2 separate regions of the Homo sapiens genome follow, and region 1 is linked to region 2. A link means that fine-mapping ties the variant in region 2 to the expression of a gene that starts in the linked region. Tissue or cell type: whole blood. Region 2 holds a variant in brackets; the other region holds the start of a gene. All regions are shown on one strand. Distances are between the middles of the regions.

Region 1 (4,167 bases), 140 kb after region 2:
AAGCCACTAAAGGGTTTTAAGAAGGGAAGCGATGCAATGACAATAATAATGAGGAATAGTTAACACTACTGAGAACTTGCTTAGATTTTAAGTGTGCAGTCTCTCTCTATGTATATGTAAACTCAGTCTATCATTATAACAAGCCTATGAGGTGATGAGGTATTTATACCCCCATTTTATAGATGAGGAAACAGAGAGCTTAAGAAACTTGACCAAAGTCACACAGCAAGTCAACTCTGGAACTAGGAGCTGCGTCATGCTTTTAAAAGGTCAGCCAGGTTTTATGGCAAACGGGTGATTGTAGGAGGGAAGAATGGGAGCAAGGAGGCTTTGAAATAATCCAGGTAAAGGATGATGATGTCCAGAATCAGACTTGAGTGAGGTGAGTGCAGCCCCAGCCTGGGATGCAAAATTTAAGGAGAAGTCTCAGTAATTACTGCACTCCAGCCTGGGCGACAGAGCGAGACTCCATCTCAGAAAAAAAAAAAAAAAAAAAGATAAGTAATATTGGCCTGGCATGGTGGCTCATGCCTGTAAGCCCAGCACTTTGGGAGGCTGACGCGGATGGATCACTTGAGGCCACGAGTTCGAGACCAGCCTAGCCAACATGGTGAAACCCTATCTCTACTAAAAATACAAAACAATTAGTTGGAAGTGGTGGCACTTGCCTGTAGTCCCAGCTACTCAGGAGGCTGAGGGGTGAGAATCACTCAAGCCTAGGAGGTGGAGGTTACAGTGTGTGAGCTGAGATCGTGCCACTGCACTACAGCCTGGGCGACAGAGCAAGACTGTCTCAAAAAAAAAAAAAAAGTAATATTCTAAACTAAAAACCAAGATAATGGAAAAATCCCATTATGAACAAAATATCAAAATTTTAATTAAAGACAGGATTGGTGTTACTGAAATTGCCTTTGCCTCAGGCTTCAGTATGGCTGGACCGGGCACTGGCTGGGACTAAGGTGGTGACAAGAAAGTGACCAAATTGGAGTAGACAGGCGAGGCCTGAGGTGGAGCAGGCGTGGGAGCTGGGGGAGGGCACCAAGGGGTTGAGCAGTCTCCCCTGTTGGTATCGAATATAACAATAATTCTTAGGCTCAGCAGAAGTTTAGCATCCATGTTCCCAGTCACCTGGACTTTTCCAAATCTTGGAACCCCCTCTGGCTGAAAAGGCTTTTGTTTGTTTAAACGGCCACTTTTTGCATCCAAGAGCACAAGTCAGCTTCCACTGGAAGGTTCTGAGAAACGGTTTCAGGTTTAAGTCTAGAGCATGAATGGAACGGAGTCACAGCTGAAAAAGAAACATGCCGAGTGCCAAGGAAAAGACATGGTTAAGGGGTAACATGGGCCCGGGTAGGTGAAGGTCGGCAGGTGGAGGCCGGCTGGATCAGGGAAGGTGAAAGAAGAGGCAGGGGCAGGGCCCAGCCTGTTTTAACGCCTCGGCGTTCTCACCGCTGCAGAACGGCTGCAGGGGGCAGAGTAAAGAGCTGCTGTCAGTTTCCCTGCCCAGAGAGTGCCAACAGCTGCTCTGACCTATTGCAGGCATGTGTGTTCCAGGATGCAGCCTTCCTGCACTTTGACCACTCTAGATTAATTGCTAACCAAGATATGCACATGATGGGGCTCACAAAGTATTAGGCGGTATTTTAACAACAAAAGCTGCGAAGAAATCCCTAGAAATGTTGGCTCTTCTGGCTGGGAAAACGCAGTCTGTCAACAGTTGCCTCAAAAACTCAGAAGCTCAGAGAGTTGGATTCGGTCACCAGAGAGGCCCCTCAAAGAGGCCCCAACCATTCAGATCCTCTGCTCTGTCCCCCATGACAGCGGGGACGAAGGTCCTAAGCCCTGGCCGGGAGGGCAGTTGACCTCGGGACTCGCCGCGGGGCGGAGCGGGTGCTGGGAGGAAGGAGGGCGTGGCTGGCGGGGTGTGGCTGGCGGGACGGGGCGGGGCGAAGACAGAGCGAGGCGGGGCCTGGGACGGGGGGGGGGTCGGTGTCGCCGTGGGGGCGTGGAATGTGGGGTGGGCGTGGCTAAAGGCAAAGGGCGGGGCGCGCGCGTCGGGAAGATGGCGCTACGTCTGCTGCGGAGGGCGGCGCGCGGAGCTGCGGCGGCGGCGCTGCTGAGGCTGTGAGTGCAGGTCCCCGTTCCCCGCCTTCCCGGCCCGGCTCGCCGCGGGTCGGCTCCTGTTGCAGCCCCGCGGGCCGGGCGCGGCCTCCCCAAGCCCTCACGGGAACCCAGCCGGACGGAAGCACCATGCGCCTCCCACGCGCTGGCTCGACCTCGTCCAAGGTCGCTGCCGCCCGCGCCTCCCTTTGGGAGGGCCCTCGTTGCACCCGGAAAATGGGTACACACCTTAGGTCGAATTACCTGGACTCAGCCCCAGGAAACAAAACTGCCTGCCTCCCCCAAATGGCAAACGTGAACGCGCCAGTCTTTGAGAGGCGGCTTGCCTGGTGAAGAACACCTGCGGTTCGTTTAACACAGCGGTTCCCAAACGGTTTGGTCTCAGGACCCGTTTACACGTCTAAAAATAATTTGAGGACCCCCCAAAGCTTTTGCTTATATCTATTGATTTTTGTGCATGAGGAATTAAACCAGAAATTTAAAAAATATTCACTTAATAACAAACCCATTAACTTTTAATACAAATAACACTTTAATGCATAACTTCTCAAAAAAAAAGTGAGAAGATTGGCTCATGGTTTTTATATTTTTGAAAATTTCTTTGGTTTAATAAAGGACAGCTGGAGTCTCATATCAGCTGTTTTGAAGGAAATATTTGAAAGAAATTCTGGGCTCATGCAGATGCAGATATTAGTTGGGAAAGGGAGGACCAAGCAGACCCTCTCAACGGGTCTCAGGGACCCCCTCAGGTGTCTTTGGACCACACTTTGAGAACCGCTGGTCTAGCACTTGCCCATCGCCTAGGTACGTGCACATACATGGTCTCATTTGGTTCCCTTGACCACCATGTGAAGAAGTTGGGTGTCATGTTTATAAAGATGAAAAAACAGGGTCAGAAAGGTTAAGGATTCTCAAAGCCCTATGACCAGTAATGAGAGAGTTTGGTTCAAACACTAAGTGTATGGCTCCTGGTCTGGAACTTCTTTATTTATTTATTTTTATTTTTTGAGACAGAGTCTCGGTCTGTCACCTAGGCTGTAGTACAGTGGTGTAATCTCGGCTTACTGCAACCTCCACCTCCTGGGTTCAAGCGATTCTCATGCCTCAGCCTCCTGAGTGGCTGGCATTACAGGTGTGCACCACCACCCCTGGCTAATTTTTGTATTTTTAGTAGAGACAGAGTTTCGCCATGTTGGCCAGGCTGTTCTCGAACTCCTGACCTCAAGGGGGTCCACCCGGATCAGCCTCCCAAAGTGCTGGGATTACAGGCGTGAGCCACCATGGCCGGCCTGGTGGTCTGGAACTTCTTTTTTTTTTTTTTTTTTTTTTTTTCCGAGATGGAGTTTCGCTTTTGTCGCCCAGGCTGGAGTGCAATGGCGCCATCTCAGCTGACTGCAACCTCCGCCTCCCGGATTCAAGTGATTCTCCTGCCGCAGCCTCCGGAGTAGTTGGGATTACAGGGCGTCCGCCACCATGCCCGGCTAATTTTTGTATTTTTAATAGAGACGAGGTTTCACCATGTTGGCCAGGCTGGTCTGGAGCTCCTGACCTCGGGTGATCCACCTGCCTCGGCCTCCCAAAGTGTTGGGATTAAAGGCGTGAGCCACCGTGCCCGGCCTGGGTCTGAACTTCTTACGTCTTCTTGCACTGTGACTCTTCAGTCACCCATGTCCTATGGGAGGACCCACCTAGTCTTATGCATCCCACTTTCCCATTTCCTCCGCTGCCCCTGGCACAGGGGAGTCACCCCTCGCCCTAGAGGAGCAGCTCAGGCAGTGTATCCAGGCTGGTCCAGAAGGGTCCTTTTCTGGCGCCTTTTGAGGGGGCCAGCGTCTGTGACCTGTTCAGTAGCGGGTCCAGTGAGCGCACACAGTCCCCACGCCAGTACGCTGGGGGTTAACTCAGTGCTCCTCACCCGCCTTAGCACACTGGTCTGTTCTCGACATGTCTACCCGCTGAATATAGGATTCTTGATTGGCATTTTTTTTCCTTTGAGCATTTTAAAGCGTATTATCGCACTGTCTTTTTGCCTCCATTATTCTAATG
Region 2 (4,167 bases):
TTCTCGTGATAGGGAGTGAGTTCTCACAAGATCTGAGGGCATTTTAGAGGGCTGTTTCCCCTTCGCTCAGCACTTCTCCTTCCTGCTGCCTTGTGAAAAAGGTGCCTGCTTCCCCTTCACCTTCTGTCATGATTGTAAGTTTCCTGAGGCCTCCCCAGCCATGCTGAACTGTGAGTCAATTAAAGCTCTTTCCTTTATACATTCCCCAGTCTCGGGCAGTTCTTTATAGCAGTATGAAAATGGACTAATACAGTGGGAGAATTGCTTGAGCCCAGAAGTTTGAGACCAGCCTGGGAACATGAAAAAACCCTGTCTCTACAAAAATTACAAAACTTAGCTGGGCATGGTGGCATGTGCCTGTAGTCTCAGCTATTTGGGATACTGATGCAAGAGTCTTGCTTGAGCCCAGGAGGTCAAAGCTACAATGAGCCATGATCACGCCACTACACTCCAGCCTGGGTGACAGAGAGAGACCCATGACTTGATGCTTGTTATGCCTGCGTGATGGGTACGTGGAGAGTTCTTGTATATTCTCCCAATTTATGTGTAATTTAAATCTTTCCATGAGAGAGAGAGAAAAAAAATAGGCCTATTTCAGAGAAGGGAGTCATCTGATTTGACAAATGTTTAAAACAACTGAGTAAACTTCTTAACTTACTGAACCTCAGTTTATTCATCTATGATATGGGATTAATGATAACTATTTCACTGAAGAGTATTTTAATAAGAGAGTGCAAGGACAATACCCCTTTGTCCACATAATAAATACCTGTTTGTAATGAGACTTTTTTGCTTTGGTTACTTAAATAACCCACTAAGTATTTGATATCTCCAGGTAGGAAGTCTGCTGTTGCAACTTGATTGCAATAAATCATTTGGATTTGGGCAGCTTGCTATTTTTAATATAAATATGTGATTGGCTCCTGGCTTAGTATTTTAAATGGCCAGTGGATATTTTTTCCTGGACATCTCCAGCCCATAGTTGTCTGCCTATTCTCTATGAATTTGTAACCCCAGCCCCGCTGCTTTGTAGACCTCTCTTTAGAAGGATAAGGGCCACACTCAGCCCTCTCATAAGAGGGAAGACCCAAAGGCCATCTCAGCAGCACAGCCCATGGACATCTGCATTGCTACATTGAAACTGCTGAGGTTCGCTGGTCAATGCAATGATCCTCCACTGACCAGAGGAGGGGGGACATGAGTTCCCTGAGGACCCCTGAATCCCTGTCCACCATCAGCATGCATGAGCAGGCTTTGGCTCCTGATGGTTAGAAGTTGTAACCTTTAACTGCCTTGTTTGGAAATGAATTCTTCCCATATTTTCCCACTGGCTCTTGGAAGGATGAAAAATCATTTTGAAGGGAAAGAACCTGCTTATAATTTCACTTTGCAACTAGAAATGTATTTCTTTACTCAGACAAATGCAGATAAATTGGGAAATAACTTATTGGGAAAGAACTTAATGCTGTTCTCAATCCATGTGCGTTTTCTTTCTGAGTTCTCTCAGGTGTTTAAGCTTTCAGAATATGTAGTGAAAGGTGGCTTATGCCTGTAATCCCAGCGCTTTGGGAGGCCGAGGTGGGCAGATCATGAGGTCAGGAGTTCGAGACCAGCCTGACCAACATGGTGAAACCCCCGTCTCTACTAAAAATACAAAAATTAGCTGGGCATGGTGGCACACACCTGTAATCCTAGCTACTCAGGAGGCTGGGGCAGGGGAATTGCTTGAGCCCAGGAAGCAGAGGTTGCAGTGAGCTGAGATCATGCCGTGTCCAGAATTGATGGGTTCTTGGTCTCACTGACTTCAAGAACGAAGCCACGGACCCTCGTGGTGAGTGTTACAGTTCTTAAAGGCAGCGTGTCCAGAGTTTGTTCCTTCTGATGTTCAGATGTGTTCGGAGTTTCTTCCTTCTGGTGGGTTCGTGGTCTCGCTGGCTTCAGGAGTGAAGCTGCAGACCTTCGCGGTGAGTGTTACAGCTCTTAAGGCGGCGCGTCTGGAGTTGTTCGTTCCTCCCAGTGGGTTCGTGGTCTCGCTGGCTTCAGGGCGATGCACAACAAACAAACATTAATTGCATGGATGGATGGATGG[GTGGATGGATGGGTGGA/G]TGGATGGATGGGTGGATGGATGGATGGATGGATGGATGGGTGGATGGATGGGTGGATGGATGGGTGGATGGATGGGTGGATGGATGGGTGGATGGATGGGTGGGTGGATGGATGGGTGGATGGGTGGATGGATGGATGGATGGATGGATGGATGGATGGATGGATGGATGGATAGATGTGTGGGTAAGTAAGTGACCATATGAATCAATGGATAGAAGGGTGGATTGATGGATGGATGATTAGGATCCACTTTCTGTGTGTAGCTATCCCTCTGTGATTTCCGCATAAGATCTATGTTATGGGCTAAATGTTTGTATCCCCCACAAAATGTATATGTTGATGCCCTACCCCACAATATGATGACATTTGGAGGTGGAACTTTTCAGAGGTAATTAGGCCTAGATTAGGCCACAAGGATGGGAGCCACATGGTGAAATTAGTGCCCTTATAATAAGTGGGGGCACCAGAGCTTTCTCTCTTCCCATTTACATAAACCAAGGAAGGGCCATGTGAGCACACAGCAGCAGGAAGGTGGCTGTCTACAAGCCAGGAAAGAGCTCTCAAAAGAAGCAGATCTGCTGGCACCTTCCCAGGCTACAGAACTATGAGAAATGAATGTCTGTTCCTTAAGCCATCTATGGATAGAGGGATAATCTATCCACCTGGTTAACACCTTCCAGTCTATGGTATTTTGTTACAACAGCTCAACCTAAGGCAATCTGCTTCTGCCTGTAAGTATACTTCTGCATCCAGCTCCAAATGCACATGTGACTGCTTCTGTTCTGTGTGCCTGTGTGTCTGTGTATGTTTCTCCTTCTTCTGCATGTGGTTTCATTGAAAGGGCCAGTAATACTTTAGGCATTTCTGTAAAACAGTTATGATTATGGCTCCTATCTTATAAGATTGTTATAAGTGTTTGATATGATTATTATTTTATACTTATCACTATCGATCAGTAGACTTGAATTAAAGAAGTTCAAATTTATTTTGTCTTACATTATTATTCATAAAGGCAGTTTTAATGGTTAAGACTGGGTTTGTATCTCAGCTTTACCCACCATTCATCTATCTATCTATCCATCCATCCATCCATCCATCCATCGACAGCCTCAGTTTTTCCATCTGTAAAATGGACACAATAAGACTATTTCCCTAATAGCATAGAGTGAAATAATCCATGTAAACTGCTTAGTACAATGTCTAGCACATAGTAAGCACATACTGTATGTCAGCCAATAGAAAGAGCGGAGTTCAGTGGGAAATTATAGTACTTGAAGGGAGAAAAATCTACAGATACAGGTCATGATGAGGATGCAGTGGTGATGACTCTGCAGGCATCTTCCCAAGGCTCTGACTCCTCATGGGAGGACGGGGAAGACAGGTCACACTGAGTCTGTAATGGAAGGCATTCCCCACCCTCCACCCCAATAGATGGGATCGATGGTCATGGGTGTCGAGTGTTGCCTTTCTTCAGCGAGCAGGAATGCTGGCTTGTAGCCCTGTGGCATCTCTATGTTGAATGTCTCCCTCCAGAACTAGTTTGAACACTGATTCGTTCTGTGAGGACAGACCTCTGTGGATCCTTTATTGCGTTTTTCAACTGAATTTCTTAGCACATTCTTAACAAAACTGAAAGCAGATGTCTGTGTTTATAAAGTAAGATGAACTAGACACAGGAAATGTATTTACAAGAAACGCTAACGTATCAAGTTGAGGAAGGAACTTGTTCTCTTCTGTTTTTACGAAGTGAGAAGGTTAGAAGGTCAGCCATAGCCTTGTGTCTGGTTTTCTGGGGTGCCCCTGGCACTCTTGTTGGGGCTTCCTAATTCCTGGATCCTGTCCCTGTTGTGTGCAGACATGCATTTCTGTGTTGTTTCGAAGAAAAAACTGTTATTAAAAGACAATTTGGCACCATCTCTCAGGTTCAACTACCTGCATTTTCCTCCTTTGTCCCCCTCTCCACGATAATGACTAGAGGGTCCTGAGGTAGGTAATGACCGATGGGCAGAAGTGGGGAGAAAGGCCAGGGAAGCTAAGTCGTCATACCACCTGAAGATTCTG

Evidence for each region. PIP is the estimated chance that this variant, and not a neighbour inherited with it, causes the effect.
Region 1: CLYBL starts here. The variant in region 2 is fine-mapped to the expression of CLYBL in whole blood (INTERVAL, PIP above 0.99).

Annotation. Positions count from the first base shown.
Region 1 is chr13:99,604,634-99,608,800 of GRCh38, forward strand. CLYBL (citramalyl-CoA lyase) reads left to right here and starts at 2,057. Exons shown (of 9, transcript NM_206808.5): 1 at 2,057-2,124. The coding sequence starts at 2,063. It overlaps LOC105370332 (a long non-coding RNA gene), which reads right to left and starts at 1,216. Exons shown (of 3, transcript XR_931674.3): 1 at 1,129-1,216. RefSeq lists enhancers at 920-1,899, 1,822-2,116 and a silencer at 1,838-2,397.
Region 2 is chr13:99,460,956-99,465,122 of GRCh38, forward strand. No RefSeq gene overlaps it. Among named protein-coding and RNA genes, the nearest start is that of LNCARGI, 30 kb to the left of the region's middle. The variant GTGGATGGATGGGTGGA/G (reference allele first, on the strand shown) is at 2,090.